7 linked regions of the Homo sapiens genome follow. The protein of the gene in region 6 interacts with the protein of the main gene of each other region in a biochemical or structural test. Each region holds a gene or a part of one and is shown on either strand. Other genes may lie near its edges.

Evidence for each region.
Region 1: the proteins of CDC42 (region 6) and TSFM form a complex in vitro, tested with the Homo sapiens proteins (one large-scale study listed by BioGRID).
Region 2: the proteins of CDC42 (region 6) and NQO1 form a complex in vitro, tested with the Homo sapiens proteins (one large-scale study listed by BioGRID).
Region 3: the proteins of CDC42 (region 6) and PALLD form a complex in vitro, tested with the Homo sapiens proteins (one large-scale study listed by BioGRID).
Region 4: the proteins of CDC42 (region 6) and FMN2 form a complex in vitro, tested with the Homo sapiens proteins (one study listed by BioGRID).
Region 5: the proteins of CDC42 (region 6) and ZNF622 form a complex in vitro, tested with the Homo sapiens proteins (one large-scale study listed by BioGRID).
Region 7: the proteins of CDC42 (region 6) and ZNF415 form a complex in vitro, tested with the Homo sapiens proteins (one large-scale study listed by BioGRID).

What each region holds. Positions count from the first base shown.
Region 1 is NC_000012.12:57,792,787-57,795,436, reverse strand, and holds part of TSFM (elongation factor Ts, mitochondrial isoform 2 precursor), read right to left. Parts: intron 2,452-2,650; coding exon 2,364-2,451; intron 1-2,363. UniProt on the Homo sapiens protein: Associates with the EF-Tu.GDP complex and induces the exchange of GDP to GTP. It remains bound to the aminoacyl-tRNA.EF-Tu.GTP complex up to the GTP hydrolysis stage on the ribosome.
Region 2 is NC_000016.10:69,720,061-69,723,560, forward strand, and holds part of NQO1 (NAD(P)H dehydrogenase [quinone] 1), read right to left. Parts: intron 1-3,500. UniProt on the Homo sapiens protein: Flavin-containing quinone reductase that catalyzes two-electron reduction of quinones to hydroquinones using either NADH or NADPH as electron donors.
Region 3 is NC_000004.12:168,507,052-168,510,551, forward strand, and holds part of PALLD (palladin), read left to right. Parts: intron 1-308; exon of another isoform or gene 309-525; coding exon of another isoform or gene 526-647; intron 648-3,500. UniProt on the Homo sapiens protein: Cytoskeletal protein required for organization of normal actin cytoskeleton. Roles in establishing cell morphology, motility, cell adhesion and cell-extracellular matrix interactions in a variety of cell types.
Region 4 is NC_000001.11:240,210,383-240,213,882, reverse strand, and holds part of FMN2 (formin-2), read right to left. Parts: intron 2,793-3,500; coding exon 2,648-2,792; intron 1-2,647. UniProt on the Homo sapiens protein: Actin-binding protein that is involved in actin cytoskeleton assembly and reorganization. Acts as an actin nucleation factor and promotes assembly of actin filaments together with SPIRE1 and SPIRE2.
Region 5 is NC_000005.10:16,459,301-16,462,800, forward strand, and holds part of ZNF622 (cytoplasmic 60S subunit biogenesis factor ZNF622), read right to left. Parts: intron 1-3,500. UniProt on the Homo sapiens protein: Pre-60S-associated cytoplasmic factor involved in the cytoplasmic maturation of the 60S subunit.
Region 6 is NC_000001.11:22,083,709-22,087,208, forward strand, and holds part of CDC42 (cell division control protein 42 homolog isoform 1 precursor), read left to right. Parts: intron 1-2,730; coding exon 2,731-2,840; intron 2,841-2,960; coding exon 2,961-3,158; intron 3,159-3,500. UniProt on the Homo sapiens protein: Plasma membrane-associated small GTPase which cycles between an active GTP-bound and an inactive GDP-bound state. In active state binds to a variety of effector proteins to regulate cellular responses. Involved in epithelial cell polarization processes.
Region 7 is NC_000019.10:53,130,111-53,134,118, forward strand, and holds the start of ZNF415 (zinc finger protein 415), read right to left. Parts: upstream 2,801-4,008; 5' UTR 2,746-2,800; exon of another isoform or gene 2,688-2,745; coding exon of another isoform or gene 2,639-2,687; intron 1-2,638. UniProt on the Homo sapiens protein: Involved in transcriptional regulation. Transcriptional activity differed among the various isoforms. All isoforms except isoform 3 seem to suppresses the transcriptional activities of AP-1 and p53/TP53.

The sequences.
Region 1 (2,650 bases), on a different chromosome or scaffold from region 6:
AGGGTTTTGGGGAGAAATAAATAATATATGTAAAAGCAGCCAGCCGTGGTGGCTCACGCCTGTAATCCCAGCACTTTGGAAGGCCGAGGCAGGCAGATCACCTGAGGTTGTGAGTTTGAGACCAGCCTGACCAACATGGAGAAACCCCGTCTCTACTAAAAATACAAAAAATTAGCCAGGCATGGTGGCACATGCCTGTAATCCCAGCTACTCGGGAGGCTGAGGCAGAGGAATTGCTTGAACCTGGGCAGCAGAGGTTACAGCGAGCGAGATCATGCCATTGCACTCCAGCCTGGGCAACAAGAGCAAAACTCCATCTCAAAAAAAAAAATTTATATATATATATACATATATATATATATATGGAGCATTAACTAGGGCTGGGTGCGGTGGCTCACGCCTGTAATCCCAGCACTTTGGGAGGCCGAGGTGGGCGGATCACAAGGTCAGGAGATCGATACCATCCTGGCTAACACGGTGAAACCCCGTCTCTACTAAAAATACAAAAAATTAGCCGGGCGTGCTGGCGGGCACCTACAGTCCCAGCTACTCAGGAGGCTAAGGCAGGAGAATGGCGTGAGCCCGGGAGGCAGAGCTTGCAGTGAGCCGAGATTGTGCCACTGCACTCCAGCCTGGGCAACAGAGCAAGACTCCGTCTCAAAAATAAATAAATAAATAAAGCATTAACTATAGTATCTGGCACATAGCACTCAAATGCTAGCTACTATTACAATAAGCTTAGGCTTAGAGAACTTAGGTAACCCACCTAGTAACACAAGGCAGAGTTAGAATTAAAACTCAGATCTGACTCCAAAGCAATTAGGTGCTTTTTCCCACCATCCTGAATACTCCATAACTGACACAGACAACTCCTGATCATCCCTTCTATCCGGAAAAAGTCCACAGCTCAAAGCACCATGTCATCGGATAGTTTCAATTTCCTCTCATCAAAAACAGAAAAGATAACATTGTCAAGAGTTATTTATGAGAACCAGAAACAGATTTTAACTTATTTTTCCCCTTTCTCTCAGGATGTTATTCTCTTCTAACAGAAGTCCAAATAAGCCAAAAGGTAAAAAGGGGTAGGAGAATAAACAAAAGGGTCTGTATAAGTATGCCTGGATTAGCCATAGTCATATCTAAAAGTCATGAAAAAGGAGAATCCAGAAACCAAAACAAATTTTAAAATAGCTCAAAGCATATACCCAATAGTTAATTCCCAGAAACTGACAAGGCTGAAACACCCAGCTCTTCCAGAATTTCTTAATAAGCCTCATACATAGCTGTCTGCCTGGTTTCTCACCCATGACTCATTGAAACATCATAGATAATACAAGATGACCTGATAAAAACGGAACTGATGCCTTGACTGGAAACTTCAGATTAGTAAATTCCCAGCAAGCTCCAACCCTTCCCTACCACCCACCCTCCATCAAGGATACTTAGGAAGAAAGCAAGATGCTAGTCCCACCACAATGATCCAGATGTGGTTCCTATAGCCAACAGGCTCTAAAAGAATGTATCTTTACAAATTCACAACCAGATTTTTTGAAAAGAAAGATCAAATTCCTAAAAACAATGCTCCTCAATTGTCCTGCCACCTTTTATAAAGAAGAGGAAATAATCTTTAATGTACTATTTTCCCTACAGCATATACTCAAGTACTCAGCTGGAAGTCAAAAGGCCATCTCTGCCTAAAGACATGCTTTGTTTTGTTGGCACAGTGATGAAAATAATTTTAATTAGTTGCAAACAGCCAAAATCCGTGAGATTTTGGATACAAATCTAAATTCTTTTAAGGAATTTAGAAATTCTGATGACCCCAGGACTCCGTTTCCCTAGATATAACAATTGGTTACAGCTTGGCAATGGGACTTCCTCCAGCAGCGTATGAGCTCTTTAAGATGCCTAATGTGGCCGGGCGCGGTGGCTCACGCCTGTAATCCCAGCACTTTGGGAGGCCGAGGCGGGCGGATCACGAGGTCAGGAGATCAAGACCATCCTGGCTAACACGGTGAAACCCTGTCTCTACTAAAAATACAAAAAATTAGCCAGGCGTGATGGCAGGCGCCTGTAGTCCCAGCTACTCGGGAGGCTGAGGCTGAGGCAGGAACCTGGGAGGCGGAGCTTGCAGTGAGCCGAGATTGCGCCACTGCACTCCAGCCTGGGCAACAGAGCAAGACTCTGTCTCGGAAAAAAAAAAGATGCCTAATGTTCCCTAACATCTAACACACACACCACTTCTCACGTTCGTATCATCTGACCCTTGTAGGCACATGATTCTTGACCTAGATTTGGAGGAACAAGATAACAAGAGATCCAGTCCCTAATTTCCAGTTTCCAGAACCTTTACAAATACTCACCAATTGCTAAAGCCAACTGATCCTTGAGTGAGCCTTCTCTGTCAGGCCCAGCTGGAAGTCCAGAAAGCTCAGAGGAATTCAAGAAACCCTAAGTGCACGAAGAAAACAAACATGAACTGATTCTGTACTATTCAAATTATCAAAAGAATAGGCAAAAATAGTCTATCTCTAAGAAAAGTATTGGCCAGGCGTGGTGGCTCACGCCTGTAATCCCAACACTTTGGGAAGCCAAGGTGGGTGGATCACCTGAGGTCAGGAGTTTGAGACCAGCCTGGCAAACATGGTGA
Region 2 (3,500 bases), on a different chromosome or scaffold from region 6:
TGGGCAACATGACAAAAGCGAAATCCCTTCTCTACAAAACGTACAAAAATTAGCTGGGCATGGTGGTGTATGCCTGTAGTCCCAACTACTCAGGAGGCTGAGAGATGGAAGGATCACTTGAACCCAGGAGGTTGAGGCTGCAGTGATCCGTGATCGCCGCACTGCACTCCAGCCTGGGTGACAGAGGGAGACCCTGTCTCAAATAAACAAATTTTAAAAATTAAAAAAATTAAAATGAATTAACTATATGTAGTGACTCAAAAAGATATCCATGCTATATTATTAACTGATAAAAAAGCAAGTGAATATGAACCCATTTTTATTTAAAATGAAAGAAGTGAGAGGAAGGGAGAGAGGGAAGGGAAGGAAGAAAAAAGAAAATACAAAAAAAAAAGAAAAAAAGAAATGACATATATTTGTATGTAGACTTGCAGCACCTTGGTATGAGGGGGAAAAATGTGCAGTGATCACATTAAACTTTTTTTTTTTTTTGACAGTCTCACTCTGTTGCCCAGGCTGGAGTGCAGTGGCATGAACTTGGCTCACTGCAACCTCCGCCTCTCAGGTTCAAGCGATTCTCCTGCCTCAGCATCCCCAGTAGCTAGGATTACAGGTGTGAGCCACCGTGCCAGGCCAATCACATTGAACTATTAACAGCTCAGCTTCCTTTATAAGAAATGGCAAAGAGGTACAGGTAGAAGGGAAATGGGCCTCTTTTATATTAACAAGGTTGTCAGAGGCAGCATGCTTCAATTTGCAAGAACAGTATTTAGTGGATCCTTAGTGCTAGGCACTGCCCTAAGTGCTTTGCATTCCTTTTTTTTCTTTTTCTCTTTCTGAGACAGGGTCTCGATCTGTTGCCCAGGCTGGAATGCAGTGGCATGATCTCAGGTCACTGCAGCCTTGACCTCTCAGGCTCAAGCTATCCTCCCACCTCAGCCTCCTGAGTAGCTGATACTACAGGTGTGCACCACCACACCTAATTTTTTTTTTTTTTTTGTAGAGACAGGGATTTGCCATGTTGCCCAGGCTGGTCAAATTTGGAGCCGTGTTGCCCAGGCTGGGGCAATTTTGCCTGCCTCAGCCTCCTACAATGTTGGGATTATAGGTGTGAGCAACCACGCCCGGCCTGCACTTTCTTCCTTTGTCAGGACAACCTGCTATGTTTTAAACGTGTCCCCCTCCAAAATTCAGGTGCTGCCAATGTGAGAGGATTAACAGATGGGGCCTGTGATAGGTGATTAGGCGAGGGGGTCTCCTTCCTCATGAGTGGGATTAAGGCCCTCATAAAAGAGGCTTCGCCCAGCACGGGGCTCACCTGCCCTTCCACCTTCTACCTCCCACCGTCTATGTAAGGACGCAGCATTCCTCCAAATGCAGCTCTCACCAGACAGCCAAACCTGCCAGCACCTTGATCTTCGACTTCCCAGCTTCCAGAACTGTGAGAAATCAATTTCTCTTTTTTATTAACTACCTAGTCCCAAGTATTATGTATGGCAGCACAAAATAGACTGAGACACACCCTATGAGGTCAATACCATGAGTAGCCCCATGTTACAGATGAGAAAACTGAGGCACAGGAGAGAAGCAAGTTACCCAAGTGTGTAGTCATTAAGTGGTGAAGCTGGAATAATTTAAAAACACAGAGAGTGGCTGGGCGTGGTGGCTCACACCTGTAATCCCAGCACTTTGGGAAGCCGAGGCAGGCAGCTTGCTTGAGCCCAGGAGTTTGAGACCAGCCTGGCTAACATGGAGAAACCCCGTTTCTACCAAAAAAAAAAAAAAAAAAAAAATTAGCTGAGCGTAGTGGTGTGTGCCTGTAGTCCCAGCTACTTAGGAAGCTGAGGTGGGAAGATCATTTGAGCCAGGGAGGTGGAGGTTGCAGTGAGCCGTGATCACACCACTGTACTCCAGCCTGGGCGACAGTGAGACTTACAAACAGTGAGAAATACAAACAACAGCGTACAAGGGCATAGAGCGAATTGCCAGAGAAAGGACGCTTACCCCCACAGTTGCTCCTGATAATGTGCGCTGCTACTTCATACCCTACCATGAACAGTGGGTGGAGCTGGGAGAGAAGGCATCTGCAACTTTTTTGGCAGGGTGGGGGTGGGGGCGGGGGAGATGGAGTCTTGCTCTGTCACCCAGGCTGGAGTGCAGTGGCGCCATCTCGGCTTACAGCAACTTCTGCCTCCCGGGTTCAAGCGATTCTCCTTCCTCAGCCTCCGAATAGCTGGGATTACAGGCGCGTGCCACCACGCCCGGCTAATTTTTTGTATTTTTTGTTTTAGTAGAGACACCATGTTAGCCAGGATGGTCTCGATGTCCTAACCTCATGACCCACCTGCCTTGGCCTCCCAAAGTGCTGGGATTACAGGCGTGAGCCACCGCGCCCAGCCGGCATCTGCAACTTTTTTGCACCATCTGAATAACTAGAAATAACTAAAATAACTAGAAAGGCACATTTAAACCTTAAGCTCTCTTCCTGCTTTTATTATTGACCACATCTAGCAAGGCAAGTGCCTCTTGGGCTAAATTCAGCGAAGTGTAACTTTCAGGGCCCAATATGCCAAACCAGGGGATTTCCAAACTTGGTCCTAGGGTTTTGGACTCTTAAAACTAAGACTCAGTGGAATAGGTGTCTGGTGATGATTTCAATGCGCTGGAAGTGATTGACTTGCTTGGGATAGCTTGGAAAAAGGAAAAGGAAGCTCTGAGGCTGCCTCAACAAATTCCTACCTCTTTAACCCATGGATTTAACATGATTGGGAGGGAAGTGAGCATATTCAGCTCTAACAGGCATTTTCTTTGTAACTTACCTTGCCATTAGTCTTATCAATGTTTACTGATCGCCGCTCTGACAGTTTTTGTTTGTTTGTTTTTTTGAGACAGAGTTTCGCTCTGTCGCCCAGGCTGGAGTGCAGTGGCGCGATCTCGGCTCACTGCAAGCTCCGCCTCCCAGGTTCACGCCATTCTCCTGCCTCAGCCTCCAGAGTAGCTGGGATTACAGGCGCTCGCCGCCACGCCCGGCTAATTGTATTTTTAGTAGAGACGGGGTTTCACCGTGTTAGCCAGGATGGTCTCGATTTCCTGACCTCGTGATCCGCCTGTCTCGGCCTCCCAAACTGCTGGGATTACAGGCGTGAGCCACAGCGCCCAGCCAACAGTTTTTATTTTATTGACTTCTCATCAATGTTAACAAGCATTTTCTAAGTAGTAAGACAGTCAAGGCACTTCTCAGAAAATGAGCAAATCAGGATATCCATCTCTTGCTCTTTCAAGGAGCTCAGACTCTAATAGCTATAAGCAGGCCTGTGACTTTACAATTTTTCATGTAAGGCAACACACAAGCAGGAATAATATATTTGCAACAAATATAACCATCAAAGTGCAGTACCTGGAATAGGTAGATCCCCAAAACAACTCAAAAGAAAAATGATCAAAAGAAGGTTGTGGGTGGGTCGCGGTGGCTCACACCTGTAATCTCAGCACTTTGGGAG
Region 3 (3,500 bases), on a different chromosome or scaffold from region 6:
CTCCCTTCTCCTGGGCTCTAGATCAGCATCTCAAATCTCCTAGACATCAACACCAGAGTTACCAAAGGTCCCTCAACTGCAAAAGGCTCAAATCAAAATCAAGCTTAAAAAATAAAATAAAATAAAATAAAAAAACTTGTTCCTCCACTTGTAGCATGTAAGTTAATGGTACCAGTCATCTGGTTGTTGAGGTGAGAAACCTGTAACCCTGCCTCTGCATCACCTCTGCCTTTAATCAATTACCAAGTTCTTTCCTTTCTATCATCTATCTTATGGACCCTGGACCCACTGCTTCCCTGAATCACCAGCTCTCACTTCAGAGTCCAAGAAGGACACATCTAATCGCTGTCTAGGCCAAGTGCCAAGACTTGTGCCCAGTCTCCAAGCGGCTGGGAAAGAAAATACTTGGAGATTTCACATCCCATTACAAGTGAGTTCAGTTTCTCACTGAGCCTCAGAATATGAGGAATTCTCCAAAATGAAGACGTCCAGATGACAGCAACACCAAACGTGAAACCATGATAAATGTGTGCACCCCCTGGATTACTGCACAAGCCTTCTCACGGACCGCCCTACTGTCAGTCTTGTCTTCCTCTTTCCCTACCTCTGTCCCGGATCCAGACTGCAATCAGTTATCTCTCAAAAATGTAAGTCTGGTGATGTTTCTCAAGGACTTAACACTCTTCCTTGCCTACTGACTACCCATAACATAAAATGCAAGTTCTCTGCATGGCTCCAGGCCCTCTCTGACCTAACTCCTGCTTTCTAGCCTTATCTCTGGTTATTTTCCCATCTCCAGATAGATTTCTGTTTAGCTGAAATGCTTAGTAGAATTACCTGAGTCTGCCATGTGCTCTCTGGGATCCAAGTCTTAAAATACATATTTGCCAGTATCCTCTTCACCTCCCCGCTCTTCCTCATCCCTCACACATCATTCTTTCAGCTTTCTCTCTTTCACAAAGGTTTCCTGATCCTGACCTTGCTGTTGCTTCTAGGTGCTATCACAGCACTTTGTTTTTCTATACCACTGCAGGATGACTATAGCTAACAATAACATACTCTATAGTTTCAAATGGCTAGAAGGAAGATGTTGAATGTTCCCAACACAAAGAAATCATAAATGTTAGAGATGAATATGCTAGTTGCCCTGATCTGATCACTATAAATTGTACGTATTGAAACATCACTAGGTACCCCATAATTATGTATAATTATTATTTGTCAATTTAAAAAATAAAATACAATTTAAAAAAAGACATACTCAATTATATAAGCTTATTATTTAGTTGTAATTTGTATTAAGTTCCATGAGGGCAAAAACCTTCTCTTTTTCAAGGTCATATCCCCGTCCCTAGCGCACTACCAGGCATGTGGTAGATAGTCCATAAATACACTTCGAGTGGGTAATTCTGGTCCATGTAGTACATCTATCCCAGCTTAGGCTTCACAATTTCGTCATGTCAAGAATCAAAGGTTTTGTTGCAATTATTTCCTTGGATTTTCAGCTTAATCTACCACAGGTTTGGTTGACACAAAATGTTTTTCAATCTCCTTTAGCACTGATTTCAACACAAAAACTGAATTTCTTTCAGGCCATAATAAATAAATAAATAACAAATAAAAAACACAGTAGCTTTCTTTCAAAGAAAAATAAATTTTACAAGAAATGCAATAAATGAAAATATAGTCTGTTGTGCCTTTGGTACACAAACCTACTTTCAGCCCCCGAGTCTCCCCCTCTCCACCTTCATGTCTCTTCTGGATCCATGTTACCTAATGGCTCATCTCCCCACACCTTGTAAGAGTTGATCCTGATCCTGGCTTCCCCTAAAGTTATCTACCATGTGTGCTGACTGAGGGGCCAATTGTACTTCAGAGCTCATTACTGAGAGAAACCAGGCTGCCTTGGTAGGACAAACTATAAAACGTTTTGCAATATACAAAATGGTACTGGGTGTCCTTGCAATAGACACCCAGTACCATTGCTGGATTGGCTCTGGTGGACGTTCCAGGGTCATCTAATTCCACAGGGGTCTATGCCTTTTATTGTCTTTACAATTTTACAACTCTGTAAGTTGGAAAAATCTAAAAACAATGCAAATTATACTGGTGCATAGATATACAAATGATTTTTTTTCTAGTAGAAATGCTATAGTTTTCCACTCTTATGATTCCAAACATTGTATTTTATTGCTCTATAGATATTAACCAGTTTCAAATCTATTACCAACTTCATATCAGCATGCCTGATTGCCTACATGTGTCTCATCTTCAGCGTCTCCTTTGAAATAATTGTAATATATTACTGATTTTTTCAATTGTTAAATAAAAGCTCAAATACATGTTATTTGATTTTTATATATTACTATACCTTTGCCTTTTCAAAATCATACTTTAACTGCCTGTTTCTCATGAAGAAAATACATTCAAGTATTAAAAATACACTGAATATAATTGTTCCTCATATACGAGCCATATCTGAATAACTGGAGACCAGTCAGGATGTTTCTATCCTGCAGCACAGACTGGACAAAGGAATTAGAGTGATATTTGGGTTAGTAAAGTCAGGGAGAATGATGACACCCTCTGAAGGATTAAGGATTTACTTGAAGAAGAGTGCGAAATATGGTTCAGTAGATAGAGTAGGGCTAGCATGTGGTGAATCTAATAATTCAGGCACAAAAAAAGTAACTATCTTTCTAAGAAGACATGTAAGACAAAAGTACAGTATTCCACTTAAGAAGATGGGGTATGTTAACATTGAGTTTCAGGATCTCTGATTAACTACCCTCTGTTAAACAGCAGGTCTATGACTCACTGCATCCAGTGAAGCAGTAGGCTCTTGAGCTGGATTTCTACAACCCCCTCGACTCTTGCATAATGTATTTTGAAATTAGAGATTTTCTTAGATGGGAAGATACTTCTACGCAAGCAACTCAATTCAGTCCTCTGAAGACACACCATTTCTGGGGAATGTCCCACCAAGTTTACTCCTGACTGACACAAGGTAGAAAGTTGAGGTTCACCACATCCAGGAAGCTTCCATTATTCACTCCTAGACTCAGTCTTGTGGCAGACATCACCGCTGATGTTTTCTAGATCGTCCCTCTCAGTACTCTATGAACAATATATAGCAAAAGAATGGCACACTTAGAGTAACAAGGAGTCATTGCTTCACAATATAAAGTTCAAAATGTCAGTGGAATTTAAAGCTGTAATAGCTTACAGATAATGAAATACCTTTTATTTAATTCTGCTGATATTCCCATGTAAGTGTTCTATGCCAGGCCTCTAGTTATCTCATGCCCTTTAAGATTAGATTAGACTCTCATAGCCCCCAGGTTTTTCTCACTTTCCTTAAAAGCCTTATCAAAATTTTATATTATTAACATATTATTTGTTTAATATCTTCTCTATCTCCTCCACTTTACTACCTCCCATGACTTTTAACTCCTTGAACATGATAACTGTGCTGTAAGTCTGGATGAAGGGTCAGCAAA
Region 4 (3,500 bases), about 220 Mb from region 6:
CACTGAAAACGTCTCTGCCATGACGGTAAAAACAGCACAGGCACCTCGTTAAACACCAGTGCATTCAACCACAGTCTTACTTTCAAGGAGAACAGAGATCACAGAAAAATTATTTGGCTATTTTTAAATATTTAAACAAAAACAGAACTTCCAGCTTCCATTGTATATAAGAAGAATTGCTTGAAATACCTCCATAAACATATGCCACGGCATTAAAGGCTATTAATTTTACTGGAAATGAATCATAAGGTACCAAAATGTCTGCACATACAATCAGTGCACATTTCCCATAAAAAGGGGAACAATTTGCATGCATCCTGAAAATACACTTTCCTTAAACAAAATTTTAAATGTCTCAAGTAAATGGAATGGACAGATTTTTCTTCCAAATACAATGAAGTTAAATAAAACTATGTTTCTTCAGCAATCCATCACTTTGTAGTGATTTTTCTCTAACATACATTTAAAAAAATCTTTTGTCCCTCCAAAAACAGATCTGAAGTGCAGAGCTCAGCACCAAGACCCAGGCCAAGGAGTTGCTGAATAGGTTTATCTGGAGTCATGATGGAGACTGTCCCATAAACCCTGTTTGAAGCTGAAGGTCAACAGTAGCGTCACTATCAATAAACACAAATGAGGATATTGGCAAAGTCTCTTACCGACAATTTATGAAATGCCTTAATGACAGAATGAGGAGATTATCTTAAGATGATGATGCTCAACACAGAGGCACTGTTTATATGCTGAGACCCCTTCATGCCAACTAGTTTAATGTGAAGTTTGATGATTTACATGTAAATCATATTTCAGTAAGCTAAAACTTAATACTATGTCAAACAGAGAATGAAATCCTACAGTCTTGGGCAACCTGGGAGACTTCTTCCTTATCTGTATTCCCTTAGCCAAAAAAACAAACAAACAAAAACAAACAAACAAAAAAACACAAAAAAACAAAAGGGGTGCTGGAAGTAAGGAGAGCATGGCTCAATTTTCTGAGTATTTGGTCCCTGGACGAGAGAGGCTCCATGCCACATCTACACGTTTGTCATGTGACAGTTCCGGCTGCCTGACTCTTCTCAATGTAAGCCCCACCCATATTCCTCGCCCAGACAGATTTTACATCTCTGACACAACCCAAAAGAGGAGATACGATGATTCAGCCTCAGTGTACTATATGCAAATATACCAAGGATTTTTTAAATATTTATCTCTGCCAGAGAAAATATGATTTTCCATTACTCCTTTTAACATTGTCACCCTGGACTTACTGATTATTATGAAATGAGTAACCTTCTGGTTTTTAATCACTACTGGACATAGCCACTGATATTTATAAAGTCTTCATCCCTTAGTCAGCTGATTAATTTAATAAATATTTATTGAGTGCCTACAATGTGCCAGGTGCCATCTCATTTACTATGTTACTGACCTGAGGTCACCAGCAACCAGTGATAATGCAACAAGCATTTCTAAAAGAATTCAACTGCATAATGTTTGGGTTTACATTATTCTCAGATTAATAAAATGCCTGGGGTGAGCCTGCTCACCCAGCCAACTACGGGTCACAGGGGTCTAGCTGTCCCATTGAAATCCATCTTCTCCTGGCTGGATTTGGCAATGTCCATCTAATGAAAATTGTCTGCTCTGAAATAAATATCAATGGAAACAACTCCAGGTCATGTGCCTAGCTATTACTTCCAGGTCAGAGGCACAAATTCGAGGAATCACCCCATTAGCTGGAACTCCTATGGGGCTACTGGGCAAGGAGAACACTGGGGATATCAGCCTCATTTTTCCCTCTTTGCTTCCCAAGACTGAGCTGCTTGCCATTCCTTTGCTTCCAAGACCTCTTTCCTGCCACCCTGCAAAAGTTAAGAAATGTAGCCACTCTCCATTTCAGGGTAAAGACGGGCACCATTAGCAATTCTTTCTATCTGGAGTTCATTATCATGAGGTTTTACTCTACTTTCCAAATGACACCCCTGAGAAATTTATAACAATATCCCTTTATGACAAGTCCAATGGATATATCAGTAGAAAAAAATTGCTTGGAAATGTTTTTCTTGAAATGCACCAATCTTTCTTTTTATGACTCAAAAATGTCACAGGTTAGATCAAAGGATCTAACATAAAATAGAGAGGTTAGAAATGGATACAAGATTTCTCTTCCACATTTCAAGTACAGTGTGACTGTTTAACTGGATTCTAATGGCATCCACTTCAGATATAATGCAACAAAATACCAAACACATTATCAGTTACTAAGGATTGGATTTCTTGATTGTTTTCCTTTGCCCACTCTTTCCTTTCTTTCCATCCATAGGAGCACTCAGATGGACATAAATCAAATGAAAATTTATTTCTAGGCAACTAATTCTGGAAAGAAACAATGGCGGATATTTTGGAAATATGTATTATGATGTTACAAATAAAAGTTGGGACATTATCACTGGATGGAGATAATTATGTGTTGTTCTATTTGGGCTAGTCTTACTTAACCACATGTTCTAAAGTTCTAACCCTTGCTGTCTGCCTAAGATCCATGGAGGTTTACACAGCCCAAAAACTATTTCAAAGTTTTCTCTAATGACAGTTCACACTTATGCCAGAAACACTGTCCAATTTCATAAAGCACAAAAATACTCACTTGTTTAGCCTTCGTCTTTGAGATAGTATCAGAGATAGGTTTCTTTCTCTCCTTTACAGCAGTTTTAGAAAATAATTCCTCAAATTCATGACAATCTATGGATGGCTCTTCAATTTTTTCCCAAATAAGTGAAGTACTGGAGTCTCTAAAATTAAGCAAAAGAACAATAAAACAGCCATCAAACTGAACTTACATCACAGCAAGCATAAATAGAAAGGAAGAAGGGGAGGGAGGAAGGCCAGCAGGAGGGAAGGAGGGAAAAAGAAGAGAGATAAGAAGGAAAAAATATTCTTTTTCTTTAAGACCACCATTTGTTTGATCAACTTAATGGGAAAGTTGAAATACCATCCATGAATGAAATTTTTCCCCAGAAATAATTTCCAGGAAGCCTCAGTCATCAGGCCACTGTATAAAAATGTAAAAAGAAAACTTATCTCAGTGTGGGCTAGGGAGGCAAGAAATGTCTGATCTCTCAAAATCCCAACTTGACTTAACAACTTTGCAGATTATTCATGGGTTAAAAAATACATATTTACAGGATGGCATCCTCTCCCTCCTACTGCCTCCCATCACCCCATTGTTATTTGTCTTCTCAGTGACTGCAGATTCGTGTAGTACCACCTAAAAAGGGTAAACACATCTTTTTAAAAAGCAAACCAACAACAAAACACAAGAACTTCCCCTGTCATATCTAGAGAAAATGACTTTGGGGCACAGTTTAAAATGAATCACCCACATACATAAGTGGCGTGGTAACAACACAGAAGATGAACTGAAAAATTAAAAGTCATCAGAATATACAGATTCTTGCCCCCGATATGGTGTAGTGAGTAGAAAAATCCATATAAGAAAT
Region 5 (3,500 bases), on a different chromosome or scaffold from region 6:
ATGCTTGATCAGATACCTCACAAAAAGATATCCAAATGGCCAATGAATATGCAAAAAGCCTCTTGATTGCAGTAATCATCATCAGGGAGATGCAAATTAAAGCCACTACACACCCACCAAAGTTGCTAAGATGAAAAACTCTCCCTCACTACAAGTGGGAGTATAGAAAACCACTTTGGAAACCAATTTGACAGTATTTTCTAAAATGGAACATATGTATATCCTCTGGCCCAACTCCTACATATACACACAACAGATAACCTATAAACATTTGCCAAAGACACATTAGAATGATGTGGCAGCATTGTTTGTAATAGCCCCAAATTAGAAACCACTCAAATGTGTATCAACAGTAGACTAGATGTTGTGGAGCACTGAACAGAACACTCTGTAACAGTAAGAACTCTCCACAGCTATATAAAATAGTATGAATGGGTCTCCCAAACATAAAGTTGAGCAAAAGAAGCCACACCCAAGAGTACATTCTTTGTGATTCCATTTATATAAAGTATAAAAACAGGCAAAACCAATCTATGCAGCTATAAGTCAGAATAGTAGTTACTCTTGGAGAAAGGAGGGGTAGTTTCTGGAAGGACACACAAGGGAAATGTCAGGGTATTATTAACATGCTGTTTCTTGATCTAGGTGCTAGTTATATTTAAAATTTCACTACACTGAATCATGATATCACAAGTACGGTCATCCCTTGGTATCCATGGGGGATTGCTTCCAGGACCTCCCTAGGATACTAAAATTTGCAGATGTTCCAGTCCCTGATATAAAATGGTATAACATTTGCATATAACCTAAATCATTGCATACTTTAAATCATCTCTATATTACTTATTAATACCTAATACATTGTAAATGCTATGTAAATAGTTGTTACACAGTACTAAACGTTTAGGGAATAATGACAAGAAAAATAAGTCTGTGCATGTTCAGTATGGACAAAATTTTTTTCGAATACTTTAGTTTGGATGCACAGATGGAGAATCTATGACTACAGAGGGCCAGCTGTATACATATATGCACTTTTCTGTAAGTTTATTCTTCAATAAAAAGTTTCAGGTCCAAAATAAGTAAACAAGTTACCTTGTGAAGGGGAGTGAAATTTAGGTAATTTGTCATTTTTTAGCTGAGTGAATCCACATAAAATGCTTATTAGAACAGTGTCTGGCAGGTAAGCACTCCATAAACACTAGCTTTGTATGTAAAGGCTTTCTATTTTCCAAGTTTTCTTTATTAAGCATTATCAACTTTTTTTTTTTTCCTTTTTTTCCCCTAGAGACAGGGTCTCACTGTGTCACCTAGGCTGGCCTGAAACTCCTGGCCTCTGGTGATCCTCTTACCTCAGCCTCCTAAGCAGCTGGTACTACAGGCTCATGCCACCACACTTGGCTGACTTTTATTTTTTTAAGACAAACAAATCATTTAATATTCATTTTTAGGAAGAAAAGTTCATATAATTTCTCATTTCTAGGCACCAACAGAATAAAACTGTAAATGGAATGAAAAATACATCATCTGGACTAAGGGAGAACCGTTTCCATCAGTTACATATTTTAATTCAAACTAACGGTTTAAGCAACACCCAGTAAAGAACAAGAGTAACAACAACAAAAGGCTAGGGCTTGAAGCTTAGATTCTAGAAGGAGGAGACAATAAATAATATACAATACACACAATGGCAGTAGGGGATATAAGGAAAAATAAAACAGGATAAAAAGGATTGGGTAGGTGTTATTTTATGGAAGGTGGTCAAAAAAGGCCACACTGAGAAGGTGAAATTTATGTCAAGGCCTGCAAGAAGTGAGGGACAAGTCAAGTGAATATCTAAGCGAATACTATAAACAAATACAGCAGCAAATGCAAAGGTCTTGAGAAACACACTTGATGCATTAGAGGAATAGTTAGGAATCCAGAGAGCAACTAATACAAAACCACAGAACCACAGATGCTCCACACTATGTGCAGGGCCTTGCAGGCCATTATACTTTGGCTTTTACTTTGAGTAAGATAGGTAGTCTTTGAAAGAATCTGAGCAGAGTTTGACCTCACTTAATGTTTTAAAAGGATCCCCCTAGTTACAGTTTTGAGAATAGAACATAGTGGGTAGTAAGGATGTAAATATGGAGACCAGGCAGCAGGAGGCTACTGTAGGAAGTCAGGCGAAAGATGATGGTGCCCTGGACCTGGGTAGTAGCCATAGAAGTAGTGAGAAGCAGTCAGCCTCTGAAGATAGATAGTGCAAAAGCAGATAAAGCAGAATTTGGTGATCGATTCTAATGTAAGCATGAAAGAAAATAGAAGAATAAAGGAAGACTGCATGGCATTTGGCTTAAGTAACTAGAAGGACAGAGATGCCATTTACTTACAGAGAGCAGACTAGGATGCATAGCAGGAGTTGATTTTGGACAGGTTAAGTTAATGATTCCTTTTGGACACAAGTAGAAATATCAAGGAGGCAGCTGGATATCTTCAGTTTACAGCTGAGGGGAAGGCTATACTAGAGATATAAATGTGGGGGTCACGGGCCTACAGAAGATATTGAAATCTATGAGACTGGGTAGGATTCTGAATATAACCACAGGATGAGAGACTGAGTGCTGGGCATTCCAAGCCTACTGCTGATGGCAGCTGCTTAACTATCCATGGTATTTGCTTTGACCACTCTGATTACAACATCAGTCAAAAGGTCATAAACACTGCTGTCTAAAAGGAAACTTGAGAGGGATAAATACTGAAAGAGGATGCTTCCCACCACCAGCAGACATTCATTGTCTTCTCTACTGCCACAGCCTCTAATCCTCCCCTCTACCTCCACCCAGTCATGTCCACCAACTGCAAGTCTCCAGCTGCAAAATGAGAAATCAGGGAGAAAATGCAAAAGGAAGACTTAAAAGACTGAGACTTTTCTGAACATGGTATCACTTGGTCTATGCATGCCTGGCATGGTAATTATACACATCTGCTTATCTCCTGTGCTAGCTCACAGGAATTTTGACAACTAGTTGTTCACAAGTACTTAACATACATTTGCTAAATGACATACAAAAAAATTCAAGATTCTAGTTAGGGCCGGGCATGGTATCTCACACCTGTAATCCCAGCACTTTGGGAGACTGAGGTGGGTGGATCACTTGGGTCTAGGAGTTCAAGACCAGCCTGGGTAACATGGCGAAACCCCATCTCTACAAAAAGTACAAAAATTAGCAGGGCATATTGGTGCACACTAGCTGCTGGGGAGGCTGTGGTGGGAGGATCATCTGAGCTCAGGGAAGCTGAGGCTGCAGTAGGCCATGATTGTGCCACTGTCCTCCAGCCTGGGTGACAGCAAAAATCTTTCTCAGAGAAAAAAAAAGATTCTAGTTAGGGGTGAACCACCAATGGGGTAATCTCACCATCAGATGCCTGGTTTGGGCCTGGTTTAGCAACTGTCTCAACTCCTTCAGGAGACAGCTGGTGATGCAAGGACTCTCCAGGAACCCAATATGTGA
Region 6 (3,500 bases):
TGAGTTCTTTTACCACTGAATGGTGTTGGCACCCTTATCAAAAATTATTTGACCATATATGTGAGTGTTTATTTCTGGGTTCCCTTTGCAGTCAGCCCTGTCCCTTGACCTGGTTCCAGGCAACCACTGATCTGCTTTCTTTGTTTCTACTGTTTTGCTTTTCTAGGGTTTCATATAAATGGAACCATACAATATGTAGTCTTTTGTGTGACTATTTTTACATAGCATAATGTTTGTGAGAGTTGTCCATGTTGTGTGTATTGGTAGTTGTTTCTTTTGATTGCCGAGTGTTATTCTGTTCTATGAATATATCACAGTTTTGTTTATCCATTAACAAGTTGATGGATGTTTGGGTTCCAGTTTTAATACTGGTGCTATGAATTGCTTCCACGTTTTAGCTATTTTGAATAATGTTGCTATCAACATGGGTATACAGATACCTTGTTGACACCCTGCTTTCAGTTCTTTTGGGGTATATACCCAGAAGTGGAATTGTTGGATCATGTTTTTAATTTTTTTGAGGAACCTCCGTATTGTTTTCCACAGTGGCTGTCCCATTTTATATTCCTACCAACAGTACGTGGGGTTTGATATAGTCACATTCTTCTGTTCGACACTTATTTCCTGTTTTTTTTTTTTTTTTTTTTTTTTTAATTGTAGCCATCCTAATTAGTGTGAGGTGGTATCTAATTGTGGTTTTGATTTGTATTTCCTTAATGATTAGTGATGTTGAGCATCTTATGGCCATTTATATATCTTTGGAGAAAGGTCTGTTTAATCAAGTTCTTTGCCCATTTTTGAATTGGGATTTTTTTTTTGGGGTAAGTTTTAGGAGTTCTTTGTAGATTCCGGGTATTAATCTCTTATCACATACACGATTTGCATATATTTTTTCCTATTTTGTGGGTTGCGTTTTTATTCTGTTGATACTATTTTCTGATGTATAAAATTTTCACAGCTTCATGAAGTTTGTCTATTTTTTGGTGGTTTGGTGTGATATCCAAACAAATTATTGCCAAGTCCACCTGAATCTTTTGCCCTATGTTTTCTGGGAGTTTTAAAGTTTTAGGTCTAACATTTAGACCTTTTATCCATTTTGAGTTAATTTTAGTATATAGTATTAGGTAAGGTTTCATCTTTGTCTTTTGCTTGTGAATATGTCATTTTCTCAGCACCATTTATTGAAGAGTCCTTTTACCACTGAATGGTCTTGGCACCCTTATCAAAAATTATTTGAGCTAGGCTAGGCACGGTGGCTCACACCTGTAATCTTAGCACTTTGGGAGGCTGAGGTGGGCAGATCACCTGAGGTCAGAAGTTTAAGACCAGCCTGGCCAACATGGTGAAACCCTGTGTCTACTAAAAATACAAAAATTAGCCTGGTGCGGTGGTGTGTGCCTATAGTCCCAGCTACTCAGAAGGTGGAGGCAGGAGAGTCTCTTGAACTGGGGAGGTGGAGGTTGCAGTGAGCCGAGATTGTGCCACTGCACTCCAGCCTGGGTGATAGAGTGAGACTCTGTCTAAAAAAAAAAAAAAAAAAGAAAAATCATTTGCCCACATATGTAAGGGTTTATTTCTGGGTTCTCTAGTCTATTCCATTGTCTTATATATCTCCCTATGCCAATACCGCACTGTTTTGATTATTGTAGCCTTGTAGTAAGTTTTGAAATCAGGAAATGGGAGTGCTTCAGCTTTATTCTTTTTCAAGATTATTTTGTCTATTGTCCCTTGTTTCAAGATTACTATCCCTTGTTGGGATTTTGATAGGGATTGCATTGAGTCTGTAGGTTGCTTTGGATAATGTTGACATGTCAACAATATTAAGTCTTCCAGTTCATGAATGTGGGATGTGTTTCCATTTATTTATGTCTTCTTTAATTTCTTTCAGCAGTTTTGAATTTTTTTGTTATCCAAGTCTTTTGCCTCTGATTAAGTTAATTCTAAGTATTTTTATTATTTTGAGTATCGATTAATTCTTGCTAAATTTGTTTTCTAGGCTTTATCAGTTTCAGATACCGGTCTTATATACACGCATTAACTAAATATGTGAACCTCTGTTTGTAGTCATGATGGGCAGTGGATTTTGTCATCTGGGTTTCAGTGAGGTTTTTCTTTCCTTAGATGATTTCACTGTGATTGTTTCTTTACCATATCTGAGATGGAGTCTCACTCTGTCACCCAGACTGGAGTACAGTGATGCCATCTCGGCTCACTGCAACCTCCGCCTTCTGGGTTCACGTGATTCTTCTGCCTCAGCCTTCCAAGTAGCTGGGATTACAGATGTGCACCACCACACCCGGCTAATTTTTATATTTTTAGTAGAGATGAGGCTTCATCATGTTGGCCAGGCTGGTCTTGAACTCCTGACCTCAGGTGATCCGCCTGTCTCGGCCTCCCAAAGTGCTGGGATTACAAGGATTGATTTTTAACCATTTCTGTAGCAAGAGTTTATTATTACATTTATTATTGGGTTTCTAATGGACACAAAGATTGAACACCACAAACTGGTAATAAAAGCAAATAACATAATAGTAAATTCATTGCTGTTCTGAGTGCTTGAAGTTTGTAGAATTAGCTGATTGAGAATATTGCCCACATATTATATTACAAAGCCATACATTTTATTAGATAAGTAAGTTGCTTTTTGAGTAATGACCAGCATGCTTTTAACACTTTGAGGACACCAAGATTCAGTTGCTGAATTCTCTCCAATATTTTTCTTTTTTCTAGGGCAAGAGGATTATGACAGATTACGACCGCTGAGTTATCCACAAACAGATGTATTTCTAGTCTGTTTTTCAGTGGTCTCTCCATCTTCATTTGAAAACGTGAAAGAAAAGGTAAGCTGATCAGATACTCTTGCCCTAAGAAGATCATCTCAGAATTTCTACTGACCTGTTATAAATAGCATTAGAGGCTTGTTGATTAACAAAGGTGTATTTTAAAATACCTTTTTTTAGTGGGTGCCTGAGATAACTCACCACTGTCCAAAGACTCCTTTCTTGCTTGTTGGGACTCAAATTGATCTCAGAGATGACCCCTCTACTATTGAGAAACTTGCCAAGAACAAACAGAAGCCTATCACTCCAGAGACTGCTGAAAAGCTGGCCCGTGACCTGAAGGCTGTCAAGTATGTGGAGTGTTCTGCACTTACACAGGTAAGAATGGCATGAAACCCCATGTGTATTTATGGTCGAGTCATTTATTAGAGCATTAGGATACAGGAGTTATTTCTAACAGTGATCAGCAGTGCTCAAAGATGCCCAGCAAGAATATGAACAGCTTCATATTGTATGTTCTTTTGTTAGAGGCCTCTGTGTTTTTTGGAGAATATTATTAGTTCCTAAACCCCTTGTGTTGGTAAGCTCTCGTATTGTACTGAATGATTCGTAGTGGTCAGGGTTGTGTTAAAACAAAAACCTTACAGGAAAGGTTCAGATAAGCATAAACTTGCAAGAGACGATGTGAATGATTTTTTTTTTTTCTAAACACTTAAATTT
Region 7 (4,008 bases), on a different chromosome or scaffold from region 6:
TCTTTCACATATCTGAGCAAAAGAAACTTCTTCAAGGTTTTATCACATTGGTTCCAAATGCAGCTCACAGCTTACTATTTTAACAAATTACACAAAAGAAGAAAATTGAATAATAGACTAGTTAAACTAGGTTTCCATGTTAAGGTAAAAACATCATTGACATCTTTATCAGGTACACATTGAAACAATCTAAAATTACCTACTAGTCAACAAATAATGCTTCTATTATATAATAAAGAGCAGAAAGCATGCAGACCTCTATCAAAACTGGACACAATTAATTTCAAAGGGAAAGATTTTGAAATTGTTAAGAAATATCTGATGAATTTTGGAGCTAAAAAAATTGAAAACACATTATATTTAGAAAATGCCATGAGCTGATTATAGGATGCCACCAAAGTTACTTTGGAAATAATTATATACAGAAAAATAGAAACTGAATTAATGAAGATCTATCTCAAGTTGCAAAATGAACTATACATGAGATGAAAGGGAATTAGTAAGAAAAAAAGCAAATCAATTACAAAAAGCAACAACACTTTTTTTGTTTGTTCTTTGTTTTTTTTTCAGACGCAGTCTTGCTCTGTCACCGGATCTCGGCTCTTGGCTCACTGCAACCTCCGCCTCCCGGGTTTACACAATGCTTTGCCTCAGCCTCCTGAGTAGCTGGGATTACAGATGCGTGTCACCATACCTGGCTAAGTTTTGTATTTTTAGTAGAGATGGGGTTTCACCATCTTTGCCAGGCTGGTCTTGAACTACTGACCTTGTGATTCACCCACCTCGGCCTCCCAAAGTGCTGGGATTACAGGCATGAGCCACCATGCCCAGCCTCAACACTTTTAATGTTCCTTTTGAGCAACGTTGTCCAATCCGCAGCCCAGGAAGGCTTTGAATGCAGCCCAACACAAATTCCTAAACTTCCTTAAAACATTTTGAGATTTTCTTGCAACTTTTTTTTTTTTTTTTTTTTTTTTTTTTAGCTCATCAGCTATTGTTAGTGTTAGTGTACTTTATGTGTGGCCCAAGACAATTCTTCTTCCAATGTGGCCCAGGGAAGCCAAAAGATTGGACACCCCTGCTTTAGAGAGACACTATGTAGTGACAGTCTTTCACTTTCTGCCCAGCTTTACTCTCCCACTCCCCCTTCCCCTCCCCCTGCCCCAACGCCAGGGAAGGGGAAGAGGATGACCTGTGGAATTAATGAGTCAAGTCACTTCCCTCTGCCTTAACAGGGATTGCAAGTGGAAGCTAACTTCTGATGCCATAATTATAAAATGCACCAGCCTTAATAGACAGGAGCTTTGCAATTCTCATCATCTGTGCATTTTAAACTTATAAAGACAGAAATCAACAGGTCAAAAGGTAGTCATCACATCCAGTCAGTTCACAACTCACCTGGACCTGGGGTCCCCCTCTTTCCTCATTATGGTGTGTTTCCCTCCCTCGTTCCGTACATCGCTCTCATTCTCACCTTCTTTCTCTAGCTCTTTCCTTCCCCTTTATTTTCTCCCTAGGATTCTGCTCATTTTGAGCCCCTCTCCTCTCCTGCTGCTCCTCCCCGTCTTCCCTCTATTCTTTCTCTTCCACTTGCTCTTTCCATTCTTGCAATGTATTTAATTCCTCTTTCTTCCTAATCTTTTCATTGTCCCAGTCTCCACATATTTCTGGCTCTTTCTTCCCCATTTCAGCACTCCCTGTTAAATTCCCTCTTCCCTGTTACACACCGTTGTCCCCACTCTTTGGCACCCCCAGATCCCAGGCCTCCCCGTGCTGTGGTTCTCCCTCTGCTTCTCCTTGTCATCGGCTGCCCCCTCTTGCTGTCCCGGTACCACACTGCCCTGTCTGCCCTGGCTCCAAATCCCTTCTGCTCTCCCCCACTCTCTGTCTGAGGAGCCTCCTCCTTTGCTGCCCCTCTCCCTACCTGGCTGTCCTTCATCTCTCTGGATACTGTGCTTTTTCTCGAAATGTGTCTAGTTACTTTTCTCTCCCTGCTACTTTCTCGGCTTCTTCTTCCACTCTTACTGTCTCTGAAAATCTCTAACCATCCTCTACTTTGCCATCTGTTTATTGGTTTGCCTCATTCCTTCCTGTCTCAGGTTTTCTACTGCTCTCTCTGTCCCTCGATCCCTTTGGCCCACACATTCACAGGACGGTTTGGGGTAAGACGCCTGCATCCTGGAGGAGCGCATTTTCCACGGGGTGGAGGAGGGCAGGCAAGAACATCGGGTGTCACAGGACAGGCCCTGAGCACCTCCCCAGCGCGGGCTCAGGGGAGGCCTGGGGAGCAGCGGGGCCCGGCACGAGGAGGAGGGAGGTGGGGCGCGACAGCGCCTTCAGACAGGGGTGGGGTCTGCAGGATCCCAGGACCAGGCAGAGGACGCAAGGCTCCCCGGGACTGCGGCTGCAGCTGCGGCGCTGCGCTCCAGGGGCCGACGAGGGCAAGGCTGGGAGGCACCCAGGACGGGAATACACCTCTTGGGTGAAGACTTTAAAAAGCCCGGGGATGGGGGAGGGGGTCAGGAAAAGGTTTTAAGCGGGAGGAAGAAGCAAAAGGCCGGGGACGGGGAGCAGCCTCAAAGCGACTTCAACCCAAAGGGAAGCGACTCCGGACCCACACTGCGAGGCCTGTATTCACCTGGGGTGGAGTGTACGGGGATTTTAAGGGCCGTATCGACCCTGGACATCGGCTGTGGAAATGGGAAACAGGGAGCGCAGGTTTAATCTACACAGAGGGTCACTCACGCTCGACGCCGTCACCTTCACCCAACGCGATCCGTTTCCGGGCCTGTAGGAAACTGCGCATGCGCGGAGAGAAGAGCCCGGGCAGCCTGAAGGAATGGCTGGAGTGGGCGGGGTCTGCGCCGCTTTAAGGTAAAAAAATCAGAGTTGTGTGGGCCACTTATGGTGGAAACCAAAATGTTTTCCACTTACCAAGTTGAAAACGGTTTATGTTAAAACTATTTTGCCTGCAGGTTGGACCCGATCCTGCTAGGGAGTCTCCTGCAGCTTAGCAGTCCGGGAACTGGGATTTCGGTGGGGAATCCAAAACTAGCAGTGATTGGATCCATAAAAGTTACCAAAAAACAAAAATGAAGTGTCTGGAATCACTCCACTGGATTTCAAGACTACCAATATAGGAAAGGTAATAAAAACTGTGTGGTTTTGGGGCAATAAAAGACATATGGATTGATGCAATACAGTAAGAGAGTACAAAAATAGCCTCTACAGGTACTTCCAACTGATTTTTGACAAAGTTACCAAGGGAATTGAATGAAGAATTTTTAAAAACTGGTGAGGGGCTAACTTAATATCCACAGCAGGAAAGAAGTCATCTCTACTCAAACTTCACAACCGTACAGACATTAGTTCAACATTGACCATAGCCTAAATGTAAAATATCAAACCATAAAATGGTATCCTGTAGGAGACTGAAAGAAAAAATTACTCACAATAAAATCGTAAGAATCAAGAGCTTGTTCAAAAATTCTTAGCCATAGCAGCAAAAGCATGATTCATTAAAGAAAAAAAAAATCAACTGGTATTTACCAAATTAAAAACTTTTGGTCTGTGAAAGACCTTCAGACGATGAAAGAAAAGGTATTTGATATGGTTTGGCTCAGTGTCCCCATCAAATCTCATTTTCAAGTATAAACCTCAGGTGTTGAGGGAGGGACCTGGTGGGAGGTGACTGGATCATGGGGGTGGTTTTCCCCAAGCCGTTCTCATGATAGTGAGCTCTCAGGAGATCTCATGGTTTAAAAATCTGTGATAGTTCCTCCTTTGATCGCTCTCTCTCCTGCTGCAAGCAAGACGTGCCTTGCTTCGCCTTTGCCTTCCTCTATGATTGTAAGTTTCCTGAGGGCTCCCTAGCCATGCGGAACTGTGAGTCAATTAAACCTCTTTTGTTTATAAATTACCCAGTCTCAGGTTGTCACAGGAGGGTTTAGGCAGTGTGAAAATGGACTAATACAGTACTGAATAATAGAAAATATTTGCCTACCATAT